4 separate regions of the Homo sapiens genome follow, and all the other regions are linked to region 4. The links come from fine-mapping of genetic effects on gene expression. A gene starts in region 4. Each other region holds a variant in brackets. All regions are shown on one strand. Distances are from middle to middle.

Region 1 (4,584 bases), 120 kb before region 4:
ATGGTAGTCATATTCCATTTATATGAAATTTCCATACTAGGCAAATCTATAGAGGTAGAAAGTAGATTAGTGGTTGCTTAGGACTAGAAGGAAGTTGGGGAGATATGAGGATGAGTGTAAAAGGTACAGGATTTCTTTTTGAGGTGATAAAAATGATCTAAATTTGACTGTGGTTGCACATATCTGTGAATATACTAAAAACCACTGATTTGTACACTTTACATGGGTGAGTTGTATGGTGTGTGAATTATATTTCAATAAAGCTGGGTTGTTTTTTGTCTGTTTGTTCATTTGTTTTTTTGAGATGGAGTCTTGCTTTGTCACCCAGGCTGGAGTGAGTGCAGTGGCGTGATCTTGGCTCACTGCAAGCTCTGCCTCCTGGGTTCACACCATTCTGCCTCAGCCTCCCAAGTAGCTGGGACTTCAGGCGCCCACCACCACGCCCGGCTAATTTTTTATTTTTATTTTTTTTAGTAGAGACAGGGTTTCACCGTGTTAGCTAGGATGGTCTTGATCTCCTGACCTCGTGATCTGCCCACCTCGGCCTCCCAAAGTGCTGGGATTACAGGTATGAGCCACCGCGCCTGGCCAAGCCGGGTATTTTTTTTAAGTGAAGGCAAGGAGATCAGTGAAAGACCACTATATATAGTAGTGTGGGTGAAATGATGGTGTGGTGGTAGCAAACTGGAAGAAATAACTGAAGAAAGAATAGACAGGGGTTGAATACGGGACTGAAAGAAGAGTCTAGGATCACTGCCAAGCTTCTGTTCATATGATGGGTGGGTGGTGATACCAGTCACTAAAAGAATAAAAACAGCTAATATTTACATAGTACTTAATTACCCGGCACCATTCCAAGCATTTTGCATGTATTAATTCATTCAGTCTTCAACAATCCTATTAGTAGGTACCATTATTATTGTCATTTTACAGAGAACAGGACCAGAGAGGCTAGTAACTTGGCTAAAATCTGATAGCTAGTAAGAGGCAGAGCTGAATCTGTTGTTCTTGTTTTGAGACAGGATCTCGCTTGGTCTCCCAGGCTGGAGTGCAGTGATTCGATCATAGCTCACTGCAGCCTCAACCTCCTGGGCTCAAGCAATCCTCCTGTCTCAGCCTCCCAAGTAGATGGGACTACAGGCATGCACCACCATGCTCAGCTAATTTTTTTAATTTTTTTTGTAGAGAGAGGGTCTCCCTATGTTACCCAGGCTGGTCTCAAACTCCTGGGCTCAAGCGATCCTCCTGCCTTGAGCCTCTAAAAGTCCTGGGATTACAGGCATGAGCCACTGCACCTGGCCAAGAGCTGACATTTAAACCTGGATATTCTGGCTCCAGAGTCCCTCTCTTAGCCACAGTACTATGCCGCTTCTCTGGCAGTAGAAAGGGCCAGATTTGGGTATAGTACACTTCCAAATTCACCACAAATATATCAATCACACACCACATTCCAGGTTGTGGGCCCCAAAGATATCCTGCCCCAACAGAAGGTCTCCCCATTCCCACTGTAGCACTGAAGACCCAGAACCCCAATACAAGCAAGTCAGCAAACTGCAGGTCCAGAGCACAGTCCTAAATGCTCAGCCTCGTCTGCCTGCACCTGTTCCAGCCTCAGTTCTCACAGCTTCACTCAACAGCCATATTCTCACAGGAGATGGCCTGGGTTGGGTGGGGCTTGGAGCAAAAGACCAGCCCAGCAGCACAAACTTGTTTCCAGGGATAGAATGGAAAAGGCCAGAGGAAAAGCCTCATTAGGAGGCAGCTGGGAAAGGCGAACCCAGTGAGTACTTCATCCGAGGAACCTCCCTACAACCCGTCCTGGCCACAAAAACAGAACTCCCACCAGTTGGCCCTGAGTCATTCATTCCCCTCCCGCCCCCAGGGAAGGGGTGATTTCCTGCAGGCAGCTCAGGCTCCTCCCAGGGGCTGTGCATCCTCTTATCTCACCCAAGGCCCTCTCCTAGGGCAGGGCAGGCAAACCAGAAGCTGGCTGCAGTGGGGCTGTCCTTGTATTTCCTCAGCGGGCCTTGGATTCTGGGGTCAGGGAGAGACCCAGCAGCTTAAGGACCACTCAGGAGCCAGGATGTCTCATGAAGAGCAGAGGACAGAGGGCTGAC[C/T]AAACTGGGTTCTCTGCAGCTCTCTCCCTTGGGGTTACTACTGGGCAACTACTGGTCCTGTTTCCATTTACTTGAGTTAAACCTCTCCAGATGCCTGTTTTGAACTCAGACTCATCCAGCTCAAGACTCACACCATGCCCTGTGCCAGGCTTATAATGTTAAATGAGTGAATAAAATGGAGGAAACAGCCATAACATGCTCCTAGTCAGAGGTATCTGTGCAGTAGTTAAAAGAACAGGCTTTAGAGTCAAACAGACCTGAATCCAAATCTCAGCTCCATCCTTTGATAGTGACTTTGAACTCACTGACTCCTTCTAAGCCTCAGCTTTCTCTTCTGTGAAGTAAGGACAAAGGCACCTAACAGGGTGGTTGTATGATGAAATGAGACAATGCATTCCCACAGTGCTGGCAAACAGCAAGTGCTCCTCACTGCTAGGTGGCAGGATCCTGGCAAGAGAGGGAGTTAGGGAGGAGGGGGCAGGCCCACTCCCACCCAGCGCCTACCCCAGGAGGAGGGCCTTAAGATGGCAGTCCCCGGGCTGGATGCGGTGGCTCATGCCTGTAATCCCAGCACTTTGGGAGGCCGAGGTGGGCGGATCACGAGGTCAAGAGTTCAAGATCAGCCTGGCCAACATAGTGAAACCTCGTCTCTACTAAAAATACAAAAATTAGCCAGGCGTGGTGGTGCCTGCCTGTCATCCCAGCTACTCTGGAGGCTGAGGCAGGAGAACTGCTTGAACCCAGGAGGCGGAGGTTGCGGTGAGCCAAGATTGCGCCATCGCACTCCAGCCTGGGCAACAGAGCAAGACTCCATCTCGGCGGGGAGAAAAAGAAAAATGACAGTCCCTACTTGGGGATTCAGTTCTTATGTAGCTAGAGTGGGGGCACAGCATGTCATTTTATACATAAGAACCCCCCAACAGAGGCTCAAGTTTCTGCGGGAACTCAAAGGAAGAAAGGTTATGTGTGTGCACCCAAATGACTTCAAGGGGTGCCCTTTGGGGTCACCCTTTTGATTTGTGTCTAATTATTATGGCTCAGTTCCTATTCCACATCCTTTGGGAGGTACATGCCTTCCTGTGTTTCTACCAGGACTCTCCAAGGGTTTCCATCCGACAGGTGTCGTTACCTCTTTTCCTTTGTTCCGAAAGCACCATGAATGGAGGGTTTTGTGTACAGTACACTTTACTGGATGTCTGGGCATGCTGTAGGGAAGCCAAGCACTCACAGAATAGGGAGCATACTGAGGATTTGGCATCATCATTCTGGAATTCTCCTCAGACAGTCCTACCTGGAATTTCTCACTGGTTGACCTTTCTTCTCCTCAGGTGGCCATCTTTCACTTACCGGCCCTCCTCCGTTTTCTCTGGAGTTACCACAGGACATTCTAAAATTCCCATCCATTTCATTTCCCCCAAACTCAGCTCTCTAATGCTTCCTATCAAGGCCATGCCCAAAGGCCCATCCAGTTTGTTTCTGATCACAAAAGAGCTACAGGGCCTCTAAAAGGAATGTGAAATTGTATTTCGCTTTTTTAATTAGCCTTTTCCCCCAGTTGCATATAGTTGGGGGGATAAGAAAAGACTCCCAAGAAATAGTGACTTAGGGGCAGGCAGAATCACAAAGGAAGTTCCAACAGGCTAAGTGGGGAGGGTCTGTGCCTGGGGAAGCAATGGGAACAAGGCCCTGTGCCTAGAAAGGGGATTGGGTATGGGGACTAGTGAATGGAGCATCCTGAGGGGGAGATTCCAGCAATGGGGGTCTTGTGCTGCAGCACTGAGGGATGAGCCTTCCTCATCTTGTGGAGCTGCAGAAAGATTTCCAGCAGGAAGAAAATAAATAAAAGCACATTTGAACCTCAGAAAAAGCACTGAGTAAGGATATACCATTTGTCAACTATCAGAATGGCAAACTTAAAACTTAACGTTGACTGGCCGGGTGCAGTGGCTCATGCCTGTAATCCCCATACTTTGAGAGGCCAAGGCGGGAGGATCGCCAGAGGTCAGGAGTTCGAGACCAGCCTGGCCAACATGTTGAAACCCCGTCTCTACTAAAAATACAAAAATTAGCTGGGCATGGTGGTGCACGCCTGTAATCCCAGCTACTCAGGAGGCTGAGGCAGGAGAATCGTTTGAACCTGGGAGGCAGAGGTTGCAGTGAGCTGAGATCGCACCACTGCACTCCTGCCTGGGCGACAGAGTTAAGACTCTGTCAAATCAAAAACAAAAAACAAACAAAAAAAGTTGACAAAGATGTGGGGGAAATACAGCACCCTAACACGCTGCTAAGTGTATAAACGGAACCATTATATTTATTTATTTATTTATTTATTTATTTATTTATTTATTTAGAGATGGAGTTTCACTCCTGTTGCCCAGGCTGGAGTGCAATGGCACAAACTCGGCTCACCGCAACCTCCACCTCCCGGATTTAAGCAATGCTCCTGCCTCAGCCTCCCGAGTAGCTG
Region 2 (4,000 bases), 93 kb before region 4:
AACTCCTGGTCAGTGAGGTGCCAAAGGAACTGAGTGAGAGCAGCCTTCATACTTTCTCCCTGGGGAGCCTGGTCAGACTGTCTTCTCTTTCTCCGCCCCAGGCAAATCCAGTTCCAAGGTTCAGACCACTCCTAGCAAACCTGGCGGTGACCGCTATATCCCCCATCGCAGTGCTGCCCAGATGGAGGTGGCCAGCTTCCTCCTGAGCAAGGAGAACCAGCCTGAAAACAGCCAGACGCCCACCAAGAAGGTATGTGTCCCAGAGGGGCTTAAGGCACGGGACCTGACTGTTCTTTGGATAATACCATCTTGCTCCTTCACTACCCTTTATGCCAGGAACATCAGAAAGCCTGGGCTTTGAACCTGAACGGTTTTGATGTAGAGGAAGCCAAGATCCTTCGGCTCAGTGGAAAACCACAAAATGCGCCAGAGGGTAAGACCCGAAGTTCCTGGTTCCTGGAGGGAGGTGTCAGTTCATCTCCAGGGCTGAGCACAGATATCTGTCTCCTCTTCCTATCTAAGATTGAGGGCAAGGGAGGTGTTGATTTTCCCAGCGTCTAGACTCACTCCGTTGCCACAGGTTATCAGAACAGACTGAAAGTACTCTACAGCCAAAAGGCCACTCCTGGCTCCAGCCGGAAGACCTGCCGTTACATTCCTTCCCTGCCAGACCGTATCCTGGATGCGCCTGAAATCCGAAATGACTATTGTAAGTGCATCCTTATCCTCGCCTCATGCATGGAGAAAGAGGGCCTGGGACCACACAAACAAGGAAGCTCATGCTCTTCTCTCCACCTCTGACAGACCTGAACCTTGTGGATTGGAGTTCTGGGAATGTACTGGCCGTGGCACTGGACAACAGTGTGTACCTGTGGAGTGCAAGCTCTGGTGACATCCTGCAGCTTTTGCAAATGGAGCAGCCTGGGGAATATATATCCTCTGTGGCCTGGATCAAAGAGGGCAACTACTTGGCTGTGGGCACCAGCAGTGCTGAGGTGCAGGTGAGACGTGTCCAGTGCTGTCATTCTCACCAGTCCCAATGGGCTTGCACAGCTGGAGGATATTAATGCCAAGTCCCAATCTCTGATCCTAGTGGGCTTCTCTCTCTAGCTATGGGATGTGCAGCAGCAGAAACGGCTTCGAAATATGACCAGTCACTCTGCCCGAGTGGGCTCCCTAAGCTGGAACAGCTATATCCTGTCCAGGTCAGTGGTTTTTGTTGGTCTATGGTAGTCTGATATTTGCCCACCCTCCCCTTGACTGTACACCCCTGAACTGAACCAGCTCTGGCTTGCTTGCATTTGGTGCTGCCACAGAACCTGATTCCCTTCTTTCCTCCTCCAGTGGTTCACGTTCTGGCCACATCCACCACCATGATGTTCGGGTAGCAGAACACCATGTGGCCACACTGAGTGGCCACAGCCAGGAAGTGTGTGGGCTGCGCTGGGCCCCAGATGGACGACATTTGGCCAGTGGTGGTAATGATAACTTGGTCAATGTGTGGCCTAGTGCTCCTGGAGAGGGTGGCTGGGTTCCTCTGCAGACATTCACCCAGCATCAAGGGGCTGTCAAGGTGAGTAGGGTTGGGCTGAAGCCTCTGCAGACCCTCACCTATAATCTGGGGACTGTTAAGGGGAGAAGGGATGGTAGGATTGGACTGGGTTAATCTGTGACCCCTAGAGCTCCTTGTCTGGCTCTAGTACCTGCTGACCCCACCTTTATTCCATCTAGGCCGTAGCATGGTGTCCCTGGCAGTCCAATGTCCTGGCAACAGGAGGGGGCACCAGTGATCGACACATTCGCATCTGGAATGTGTGCTCTGGGGCCTGTCTGAGTGCCGTGGATGCCCATTCCCAGGTAATCTTTTGCCTGTTCCTGCCTCTCCCACATGCATTCTTACCGGGCAACTACATTCACTCCAATGGCTTCACCAACTCTATGCCCTGGTGATTCCCAAACTTCTAACTCAGCTCTCACTCATGAGCTTCATTTCCAACAGTCTGTGGCTATCTCCAATCCTATGTCCTATAGGCACCACCACCTTGATCTGTCCCAAATTAACCTTGTCACTTCCCCTTGCCTCCCTGAAATGTGTTCCTTCCTGTCTCACATTGCTTTGGAATGGCAGAA[C/A]CTGCTCAGAAATCTGAGAAACCTCCTAGAATTTTTCATCCTCCTCACCAGGATCTATCAGTTTTACCTCAAAATATCATTGACATCTGTCCCCTCCCCTCAGCCTCATCCTTCCAAGTGGAGGCCCACTACAATGGCTTCCTCACTGGTGTCAAGCATTCTTTGTTATCTCCTGCAATGCATCCTCCATGCTGTGGTCTGTTATACTGTACTGTCCTTAAACCTGTGATGGCTTCCCATCACTTATGGCATATAATCCAAATCCATTAGAAAGATACTTGAGGCTCTCTCCTTCCACTCCCCCCACATTCAGCCTTCACTGTAGATATGGACTCTAGAGCCAGATGGCCCAAGTTAAAATTCTGGCTCTGTCATCTACTAAACTTGAATGTGACCTTTGGCAACCTATTGAACTTCCTTCTGATTGATTCCTCATCTATCCAATGGATAATACAGATGCTCCCTGATTTAAGTCCCAGTAAACCCACTGTAAAGGTAAAAAATGGTTACATCAGCGAGTGTCTATAATTTGCCTCTCAAGGAACTTTTGTATGGACTATGATCATTCAACTCTGAGTCTGGAGCATGTGGCAGGGTGCCTAACACTAGAATGGGCTCAGTTCTGATTTAAGTAGCCTTGGCTATATGTCATGCCCACACCAGCTCCTCTCCACAGGTGTGCTCCATCCTCTGGTCTCCCCATTACAAGGAGCTCATCTCAGGCCATGGCTTTGCACAGAACCAGCTAGTTATTTGGAAGTACCCAACCATGGCCAAGGTGGCTGAACTCAAAGGTAAGTGGCTAGGTGAAAAGCCGGACATAAAAGGCCACATAATGTATGACTGAAATGTCCAGAATAAGCAAATCCAGAGAAAAAACACATTAATGGTTGCCAGGGGCTGAGAGAGGGTAATGGGAAATGTTGAAAATGTCTTAGAATTAGTTTTAACAGTTGTACAATTTTGTGAATATACTAAAAATCACTAAACTGTACACTTTAAAAGGATGCATTTTATGGTGTGTGAATTATATCTCAGTAACACCATTGAAAAAAAAGGGAGGAGGCCAGGCACGGTGGCTCACGCCTGTAATCCCAGCACTTTGGGAGGCTGAGGCGGGCAGATCATGAGGTCAGGAGATAGAGACAATCCTGGCTAACATGGTGAAGCCCTGTCTCTACTAAAAAACACAAAAAATTAGCCAGGCGTGGTGGCAAGCACCTGTAGTCCCAGCTACTCGGGAGGCTGAGGCAGGAAAATGGCATGAACCCAGGAGGCGGAGCTTGCAGTGAGCCAAGATTGCGCCACTGCACTCCAGCCTGGGTGACAGAGCAAGTCTCAAAAAAAACAAAAAGGTAGGTGGGTGGCCCAGTGCCTCCTTTATGGCTATGGCTGCATCAGCATTCGTATGTACTGTTCTCATTTGCTCCAGGTCACACATCCCGGGTCCTGAGTCTGACCATGAGCCCAGATGGGGCCACAGTGGCATCCGCAGCAGCAGATGAGACCCTGAGGCTATGGCGCTGTTTTGAGTTGGACCCTGCGCGGCGGCGGGAGCGGGAGAAGGCCAGTGCAGCCAAAAGCAGCCTCATCCACCAAGGCATCCGCTGAAGACCAACCCATCACCTCAGTTGTTTTTTATTTTTCTAATAAAGTCATGTCTCCCTTCATGTTTTTTTTTTAAATCTGTTTCAGCTAATGCCTTTCTTCTTTCATGACCTATGTCCCAGCAGCCTTCCTAGGGGCTCTACTCTACTGGGATCAGAGAGCTAGATATGTCCTGTGGGAGCCTGGACCATCCATCCCTCTTGTTTGTGGACAGGGCTAAGCGTGTTGTGTTCCCCCACCTCCTCTGTTCACATACGTATAC
Region 3 (4,584 bases), 56 kb after region 4:
CTCACCTGTATGACCAGTGGATTTCTCTGAGCCCCCAGGGGAGCTCATGCCCTTCTGCTTCACCACCAAGCTCTCCACCCACCACTCAGGCTAGGAGGGAATCACTGGTCCTTTGATGCTCCTCTTCTCCTCTTCATTATATTTTGCTGTCTCCAGATTCAGTGTGGTGGAGAGACTTTGGGAGGCCAAAGCAGAGGATCACTTGAGGTCAGGAGTTCGAGACCAGGCTGGATAACATGGCAGAAACTCTGTCTGTACTAAAAACACAAAAATTAGCCAGGCATGGTGGCACACGCCTGTGGTCCCAGCTACTCAGGACGCTGAGGCACAAGAATCGCAACTCTGATTTGGGTTGTAAAACCTGGGCATCCTTAGCCAGAGGCCCCCTAGGAGGCCTTGGTTCATCTCCCCACCTGGGCAGTAGAAGTTATAGTGAACTGAGATCACCCCACTGCACTCCAGCCTGGGTGATGGAGCAAGACTCCAGCTCAAAAAAAGAAAGTGTGGTGGAGAGGGCTTCCCACATCCCCACAGATGTATGGGTGTCTCGCCCCAACTTGGGGTCAAGGTGTCACTGGGTTTTCATTTCAAAGGGTCACCGGTCAACTTTGTCTCTCCATCCGCCTCCTCACCATCCATCTCCTCCTACTCACGCCTCATCAAAAAAGAAGGCTGGCTTCTCTTTGGCCTCTCTGGGGCATTTCCTGTTCAGCTTGTCATGGGAGGTATAGTCAGTGTCCTCAGACAGGTGGATTCCCACTCTTCCAGGTCTCTCTTGGGTGGCTTGCTGTTTGGACATACCACCTTAACAGCCCTGGCCTCTGGCTGCATGTTAGAAACTGTCAGGAGTCCTGCCCCATCCCCTCTCAGATATGGAATTTTCTCAATTGCTAAGCTATTTTCTGCCTATCTGGGGCCACCAAACGCATTTTGAAACTCAACCTCCAGTCTGCAAACCTGGCTCTACACCTGGATAAATTGCAAGAAATCTTTCAGTGGCAATAACAGAACACCAGCTCAAATTACTACAGGGAAAAAGGGGGATTTGCTGGTTCATTCACTGAAAAATCACAGAGGCAGTTAGCTTCAGGCTCAGCTGGATCCAGGTGCTTAAACAAAGAGTTGGTAAATGACAGCCTGTGAGCCAAATCTAGCCTGCCACCTGTTTTGTAAATAACTTTCTATTGGAATGCAGCCGTGCTTATTTGTTTACATATTGTCTATGGCTGCTTGTACCCTACAACCACAGAGCTGAGTAGTTGCAACAGAGACCACATGGCCCACAAAGCTGAACATATTTACTATTGGCTCTTTATAGAAAAAGTTTGCCAACCCCTGGCTTGAACAATATCATCAGGAATGTGCCTTTATCTCTCATTGCCTAAAGGCTGTTGTTAGTGCCCTTGCCCTTCCCCCTAAACTGCAAAGACTGAGAGTGGCTGAGATGTGACTCCCCAAGTAAAGACCGGGGGGAAGGATAAATGGCTTTGGAGCAGGCCAAAACAACAGATGTCTGCTCTACAGGCTCTGAACTTGTTTTCTGTGCAGTGACAAGCCGTAAACCACTTGGAGTTTATCCTTCAGCTTGGTGGCATCCTGAATGAGACTGTCCCTGTCTCCTTGTTGCCAAGCCCAAAACAAGATCAACAAGTGATCATGGCTACAGCCCGACTATCACCATAGAGAGTGCTCAGTCAGCAGCACCGTTCCGGGGGCAGCGTGTGGATGAGAACATCTTCACACCAGCCCCAAGGCCCTATCCGATCTGCATAGAGCATGCCAAACACATTTAATTATGTTCTGTTCAGTCCCTTGGGCTGGGGAGTCCCCTTGGGGAGCAATTCTAGTCTTGCCAATTGAAGTTCTGCGGGTAAAATAATTCTTAGAATCTCACCATTTTTTGATGAGATGATCTCAAAACAGAAAATCCAAAAACTGATAAGAACTTTTCCCAACACCCTCCTGCCACCGAGTATGCTTCTTGATCTTTGCTGGGGTAGCTGGGCATGGGAGGAAGTACGCCTTCCAGACTTGACTGTCCAGTTTCAGAAGACAGCAATCAAGGTGTGCCAGTTTCAAAAAGCATCCCATGCTGAGTCATCTCCAGAAGGGCGGGTTGGTGGGCAGTGTTTTCTATGAACTGCACTGGGGCGCAGGTGTCACATTTTATTTGGACATCCTCTGCCATCTTGGGCCAGAGGAATCATGCCCTAATTAGCCCCAGCATCTGTTCCCTCCCCAAGGCCTAAAATCATCATGCGTGGACTCAGTGCCGCAGGGTAGCCTTTTTGAAACAGTACCAACTGCTTCCACAGACCATGTATGAGGCACAAGGAATCCTGTACAATACCTAATAATTAGGGCAATTTCTGTCATTCCTAGAGAATGGCGTTCGGGCCATAAGAGAAGCTTTGTACCCTTCCTGCCAAGAGACCTACTTCTTCCCTTTCACTGTCAACCACAGCTAGACATCTTCCTAGCAAAGCTCTTTGCCAGTCAACCACATTCATCTGGGGCAGAGAGGTAGATTTGGGTTATATAATTCAAGGCTATAAGTACAGCTTCTGAGCATTGCCCTAGGCTGTCAGCCAAGCCTCTTTTCCAGACCCTTTTGCCATTCCAAATGGTCTACGCTCCCTCATTAAAGATGGTCTCGGTGATACGAGGACATGACCTTTGTAACATAGCAGCTGCACCTTC[A/G]CAGCACATGAAAACAACATTGGAATTACAGGCCACTGGAGCATCCCCTGAGCATGCCTCCCAATACCCAATCCAGTGCTGGTAAGTGAAGGGTGCAACAGCCCACACCTGAATGGTGCTCCAAATTCACATTCCTTAGATGTATTCTGATAACGCATATCAGCATTAAAAATGCTGGTCTGGGCCTGCTGCGGTGGCTAACACTTATGATCCCAGCACTTTGGGAGGCCGAGGCAGGAGGATAACTTGAGCCCAGGAGTTTAAGACCAGCCTGGGCAACATACTGAGAACTCATCTCTACAAAAAAAATTTTTTTAAATTAACTGGGCATGGTGGCATGCACCTGTAGTCTCAGCTACTCAGGAGGCTAAGGCGGAAGGATCACTTGAGGCTGGGAGGTCGAGGCTACAGTGAGCCATGACCAAGCCACTGTATTTCAGTATTTCAGCCTGAGTATTTCAGTCTCAAAAAAAAAAAAAAAAAAAAAAAAAAAAAAAAAAAAAAAAAGCTGGTCTGTTCATAGAGTATTGGGCCTTACTGCCAAATGGCCATTGATGAGCAACATCACAATTTTATTATCCCCATCGACCTGATATAACACCACCTTCCATCTGTTTGTCCTAGATCAAGATTGTCTGCTGGCATTCTTTCCTTTAGGGAACCACCTCTCCCTCATTCCATGTGGCTTAGGGGGCACTGATCCCCACTCAGTCCTCATCCTCAAGACCCAAAGGTGGGTGTGTGACATGAGCCTGCAAATCAGACTACTCCATTTCCAATCTCTAGCCGTAGTGATTAGTTCACAGATGGGCACATGACCAAGCTGAGCCAATCAGAATCTTCCCTGGGAGTTTTCTGCCAGAACTATCAAGAAAATGCTCCTGTATTCTCTGAGAGTGGAAGATGGAGCTGCCTTAGCCATTTTCACTGTCCATGTGAAGGAATAATTCTGCAATAGAAGAGAATGAGGCCAACAAGCAATGTGAACCAGAGAATAAACCAAGATGAGAGATGGAGGGGGATGGAGACAGGCACAGAAACAGAGAGAAACGTGATGACAGTTATATGAGTCCTTGAACCCAGCCATTTCTGAGTATCTAGTCTAGGCTTTGAGAAAATAAAATATTATAAGCACCAGTCTATTATTTCATCTTTGTTTAACATTGTAATTGAAACCAGAGGTTTCAATCCCAATAAATAAGGAATCTTCAGAGAATGAATAGTTATTGACACAGTGCTTTTGAGAATGCAAAGCACTGGACTGGACATAATTTTTTGTGTGGCAAAAATTAGGAGTAAGGTGAAAGGTAGAAAGTACAGAGAAAGAGAGACACATATACACACACACGCAGAAAGAGAGAGAAAGAGAGAGACTATTAACCATATGGAGTTAAGATCTTACTTCAAATTACATTTATTCTTATTTTATACCTTGTCATCATGATATTGAGCAGTTTGTATGCATGAAGCTCTCCTCTGACATTCTACTCTAACTGCAATGGTTTATTGTTTTACAACCCTTAACCCTGAGACTATGATGCTTGTTTATTGTAGAAAATTGTATTTACTCCTTGTAAGTTCGTTATAAGGAATTGAACTTTCCAGCAACCCTGTAATATTTCACCTGAACTGAGTATGACTTCAGTGCTCTTGTTTTATTTAAACCAAACAGCAGTACAAGGCTGGTATAGTTTCTTGGTGTTGGGAAAAAAAGTATTTGTAAAGTGTTTTTTTTTCCCCCTTGCATAAGTTATACAAGAAAAACAAATACTGGTTATAACGGACTCACATTAAAAGCACAATGCACAATTTAAACTTTCTTCCACACCCTGGGCTTTTGAGTTATGTCAACCAATATATTGTCCTTTCTTGTTCAGGTGCAAC
Region 4 (4,011 bases):
TGGACTGGAGGCCTTGCCTCCCTTGGCTCTCTCTGCACCTCTTCCAGGATTCCCTGACTGTGCCAGCCCTCGTCCGTCTCCCCAGGTCTCCAGTCCATGGCACCTGGGTCACGATGCCCAGGTATCCCAGCACTTTCAGAGACACTTCAGTGATGGCTGAGGGGCAAGCCCTTTCCCAGACATCTCAGTGTCCACCCACCGCCTCCTGCCTCCAGTACTTTCCAAAACCTTTCCTTCCCTCGGTCCTTCTCCGCAACCTGTAACCTGCTAAATTCTCACCTTTAAAAATTGTCCTGACCTTTGCTTGCCCTTCTCAGGTATTCCATGCTGCTGTCTCTACTTCCTCTCCTCGCATCTACTTAGCCTTTTCCCATCTGTTTTCTGCCCCCACCATTGACCAGTAGTGATCCCCTCTTGCCAGTTCCTTCTGAGCCTGTTTGGCCTCTGCAGGATTTGACATTTGAATCAGCCCCACTTTGAGCCGTCCACCTCCTCCCATCATCCCCTGATCTTAGCCACATCCAGCTCCAAGCAGACATTCCAGGCCTCCCCATCCCAACAGGCTACATACATGTCCAGCCTCAGGAACGCTGCCAAATACACCAGGCCTCCTCTTGCCACAGCACCCTTGCAAGGAACACTCAACTTCCTGCCCATCAAGCAATGCCCACTCCTTGAAGACAGTCCAAGCATCACTACCTGTAAGCAGCTTTCTCTGATCCAGACAGGGTTAGGTGCCTACCCTGCTCCCACAGCTTCCTGGAATAGGCCTGTCCTCAAATGCATCACTGTATATATTTACTCTCCTATCTGCCTAGGCAGACTGAGCTCCCAGCATGGGATCCCAGCATGGGGTGAGCATGAAAGAGTGGCAAACAGAGTGGCATAAGACAGATAAAATACAAAAGGCAATTTACAAAGGACCAGGACCGCAGAGGCAGAGATAAACCAGTGGGCTCAGACTTCTGAGCGTCTCAGATCTGGCGTCCTCGACTCCCTGAACCTGCATCAGGGTCATGGGTCACAGGGGTGGGGGTGGGGTGGAGCGGGGTACCTGGGACAGCCCAGGGCTTTGGCATACCGCACGGCCTGCTCCAGTCCCTCTCGGAAGGCCGCCTGTCTCCCGGGGACGGCCCCCAGCCCCATTTCCCCCTTCTCTTGGTCTCCTGCAGAGAGAACGGGCCTCAGCCCCCGGCTCGGACACTCCCCTGCCCGCGCCCCGGCACCCCCCAGCCCTCCCAGCCCTCCCGGCCCGCGACGCACCCGGGGGCGTGTTGATCAGTACAAGCCGCAGCCCCGCTTCTCGCGCGGCGCGCGCCAGCGCCTCAGGCGTCTCCGCGTACGGCCAGGCCACCTCGACGGCCTCGAAGCCCGAGCTGCCCGCGGCCCGCACCCGCGCGGGGAGGCCGGAGAGCTCGGGGAATAGCCAGGACAGATTGGCGGAGAAGCGCAGCGGCGCCATGCCTGGGGAGGCCGGGCCGGGCGGAGTCCGCGGGATCCAAAGGCGGCGGGCGGCGGGCGGCGGGCGGCGGGCGGGGGCGGGGCTCTCCTTGCTGGCCCTGCGAACGAACGAGCACTGTTCGTGGTTAGAAAAGCGAAGTGCTGTAAAAACCCGGGCCTTCACGAAAAGCGCCTACGGTTAGCGAGAGAGGGATCACGGGGAGAGGCGAAGGGGCGGAGCGAGGGCGGCCGGAAAAGGAGCAGGACCCGCGCCTGGAGAAGGTAGGGAGGCCGAGCTCCAGGGCCTGAGAGCCGGACGCGAAGCAAGAGAGAGCTGGCTGCCCGAGGGCCCGGTTGCAATGATGGGACGCGCACTTTAATACTGAGTCTTTCCTCTGATTATAAAAATGCTATCTGTTCGTTAAGCAACATTTGAAAGCTGTATGACCAAATAAAGAAGCACTTTTATACCGCCAGTTATCACACCACTAGCCTGTTGGCTTTCCCGTCCAAATTTTAAAATATGCAATTTTTTTCTTTGGAAATTCTGATCATTCGGTATATGCTGTTTTATAGCTCTTTTTCATGGAATATTATTTTGTGAGCATTTCCTCGTGTTTTCCAATAGCCTTCAAAGTCAGTGCCTTCGCTGCTCATTGTCGCACACCTAAGCAGCAAGTCATTATTGTACTTTGTGGTTGGATATCGTGTGTGTGCACGCGCGCTGCAAGCGCACTTTCAGGCACTTCTTAGTCCCTATCTCTGACTCTTTTCCGAGTCTTTTTCTAGAGATGTCCATCACAGTGTTTGCCCGTTCACGCCGCTAGTCTTTTGCAAGGGAAACCGCCCCATTGGAGCAGCTATGGGTGAGCTGTCCCTTTTTAGCCTTAGCCTCAGCTGATTGGACCAGGGAGGTCATCTGATCCCAGGGCAGCCAATCCATAGACTGGCCAAAAACCTCTTACTTGCGTCGTTTGGAAAGGTAATTTAACCAATCAAGAGTTCAAACAAGGAAATGCTGAGAGTCAACAGGTGGTGTTGCCAGAAGGTGACTGGGCTGTAGAAACGAAATAAGACAGTCCTATGGTAAAGAAAAGCTAGAGCGGAAAGGAGGGGAACCAAGTCCTGTGAATAGAGGTAGCACCCTGAGAAACCCATGTCATCCCAAGGGTGCCCAAACCCATAGCTGCCCCCAGGTCTGTGCACTTAAGGCTGGGATGCTTAGACTTTCCTGGGTTTCTGTCTCTGTATAGCCTCTTAATGTTTCTTGAGATAATTTGAATGATTTTACTTTCATCTACAATAACCCAACTGATTGGGCAGGTTCTTATGGGTAGAATTACATGGTCAAAAATAGGAACATATTTAAGTTGTTGATATCTTAAATTTCCTTTGAAAAATATAAATTTATATCCCAACAATTCATGAGTAAACGTCATCTTGATCTATCGTCTGTGCTAACTTTGACAGAGAAGCTTAAAGTGCAACATTAGGAACACCCAGCTCCCACTGATTGTTCTGTCAACACTCAACTCCATCTCAAATGAGGCCAGCTCAGACACCAGGGATCCAGCCTGATCCCGTGGTGAACCCAAATTCTTGGCAGGTTCTGTTTCTTCAGCTCTGCCTCCAAGAACAGACTGCTGCCAGCTGACACTGATCACCTGATTTCATGCTCTTTTGCAGCTGGTTTTACACTAGGACCTTTGCCTTGTCTTGGAACGTGTTTCTCGTCCAATCAAGACCTCACTAAGCTTAACATTGTAATCAGTCCCAACTTTAGTGTGTTTGCAATCCAAAATTGACAACAAAGAGTAACATCTAGAGGAAGTAATTCCTTTATTACCACCTCACTGTTGATCTCCGAGTATGCAAATTCTATTTATGATGTTGACAGCTGCTGAGCTCTGCGTCAGAAACAAAATGTGTCCAACTCCCGATTGTCCACCCCTTTTTTCCTTGGACATGCCTTAGGGCAGTAAAGATTATACATAAACTAGACATAGGTGACTCACTTTCCCCTTAATTCCCTTACAACACCTTCCACCTTCACATAATATGCTCAAATAAATATATAAGGAGTGCAATGTCCATGAAAATTATTTGCTTTATTCACCTTTGACTATGTCTTATCCCACCTTGCAACACAGGCATGACACTAAGTTATCACAAGTTTTGATTCTTTGCATTTGCCTTTTTTTTTTGCTTTATTGTGCACACTTCACAGGTACGTATTTGACTTTTAACCAAATAATTTGCACAGGTGTGATTTTAAAGTAACAACAACTTGTAAATAGTTGCATGGATAATGGCAAAAACTTTAGTACAGAGTTCAGAGTCTCATTTGATCATTGGATAACATTTGGCAATGCAGTAAAACATATTACAACTCATGTGAAATGCAAATCAAAACCTCAATGAAATTCTATTTTATGCCTTCCACATTGGCAAAAATAAAAAACACATTATCAAATATTGGATAGGATTTGGAACAACTGCCAACAGGAGTGTAAATCACTATAACCTCCTTGGAAAACAATTTGGCATTGTCTCTTAAAGCTAATATGCCTA

What was found. PIP is the estimated chance that this variant, and not a neighbour inherited with it, causes the effect.
Region 1: its variant is the best candidate, but not a certain one, in a credible set for the expression of HYI in whole blood (INTERVAL, PIP 0.75).
Region 2: its variant is the best candidate, but not a certain one, in a credible set for the expression of HYI in whole blood (TOPMed, PIP 0.61).
Region 3: its variant is the best candidate, but not a certain one, in a credible set for the expression of HYI in whole blood (TOPMed, PIP 0.73).

Annotation. Positions count from the first base shown.
Region 1 is chr1:43,328,514-43,333,097 of GRCh38, forward strand. No RefSeq gene overlaps it. Among named protein-coding and RNA genes, the nearest start is that of MPL, 7.0 kb to the right of the region's middle. The variant C/T (reference allele first, on the strand shown) is at 2,118.
Region 2 is chr1:43,359,389-43,363,388 of GRCh38, forward strand. It overlaps CDC20 (cell division cycle 20), which reads left to right. Exons shown (of 11, transcript NM_001255.3): 2 at 1-8; 3 at 102-250; 4 at 337-433; 5 at 581-709; 6 at 805-1,001; 7 at 1,111-1,205; 8 at 1,345-1,573; 9 at 1,732-1,857; 10 at 2,807-2,924; 11 at 3,563-3,815. The coding sequence ends at 3,741. Among named protein-coding and RNA genes, the nearest start is that of CDC20, 2.4 kb to the left of the region's middle. The variant C/A (reference allele first, on the strand shown) is at 2,131.
Region 3 is chr1:43,508,096-43,512,679 of GRCh38, forward strand. No RefSeq gene overlaps it. Among named protein-coding and RNA genes, the nearest start is that of PTPRF, 20 kb to the right of the region's middle. The variant A/G (reference allele first, on the strand shown) is at 2,701.
Region 4 is chr1:43,452,332-43,456,342 of GRCh38, forward strand. It overlaps HYI (hydroxypyruvate isomerase (putative)), which reads right to left and starts at 1,600. Exons shown (of 8, transcript NM_001190880.3): 1 at 1,264-1,600; 2 at 1,055-1,166. The coding sequence starts at 1,462. It overlaps SZT2 (SZT2 subunit of KICSTOR complex), which reads left to right. Exons shown (of 72, transcript NM_001365999.1): 72 at 1-1,916. It overlaps HYI-AS1 (HYI antisense RNA 1), which reads left to right and starts at 1,596. Exons shown (of 2, transcript NR_174945.1): 1 at 1,596-1,722. RefSeq lists an enhancer at 1-376 and silencers at 1,167-1,226, 1,337-1,636.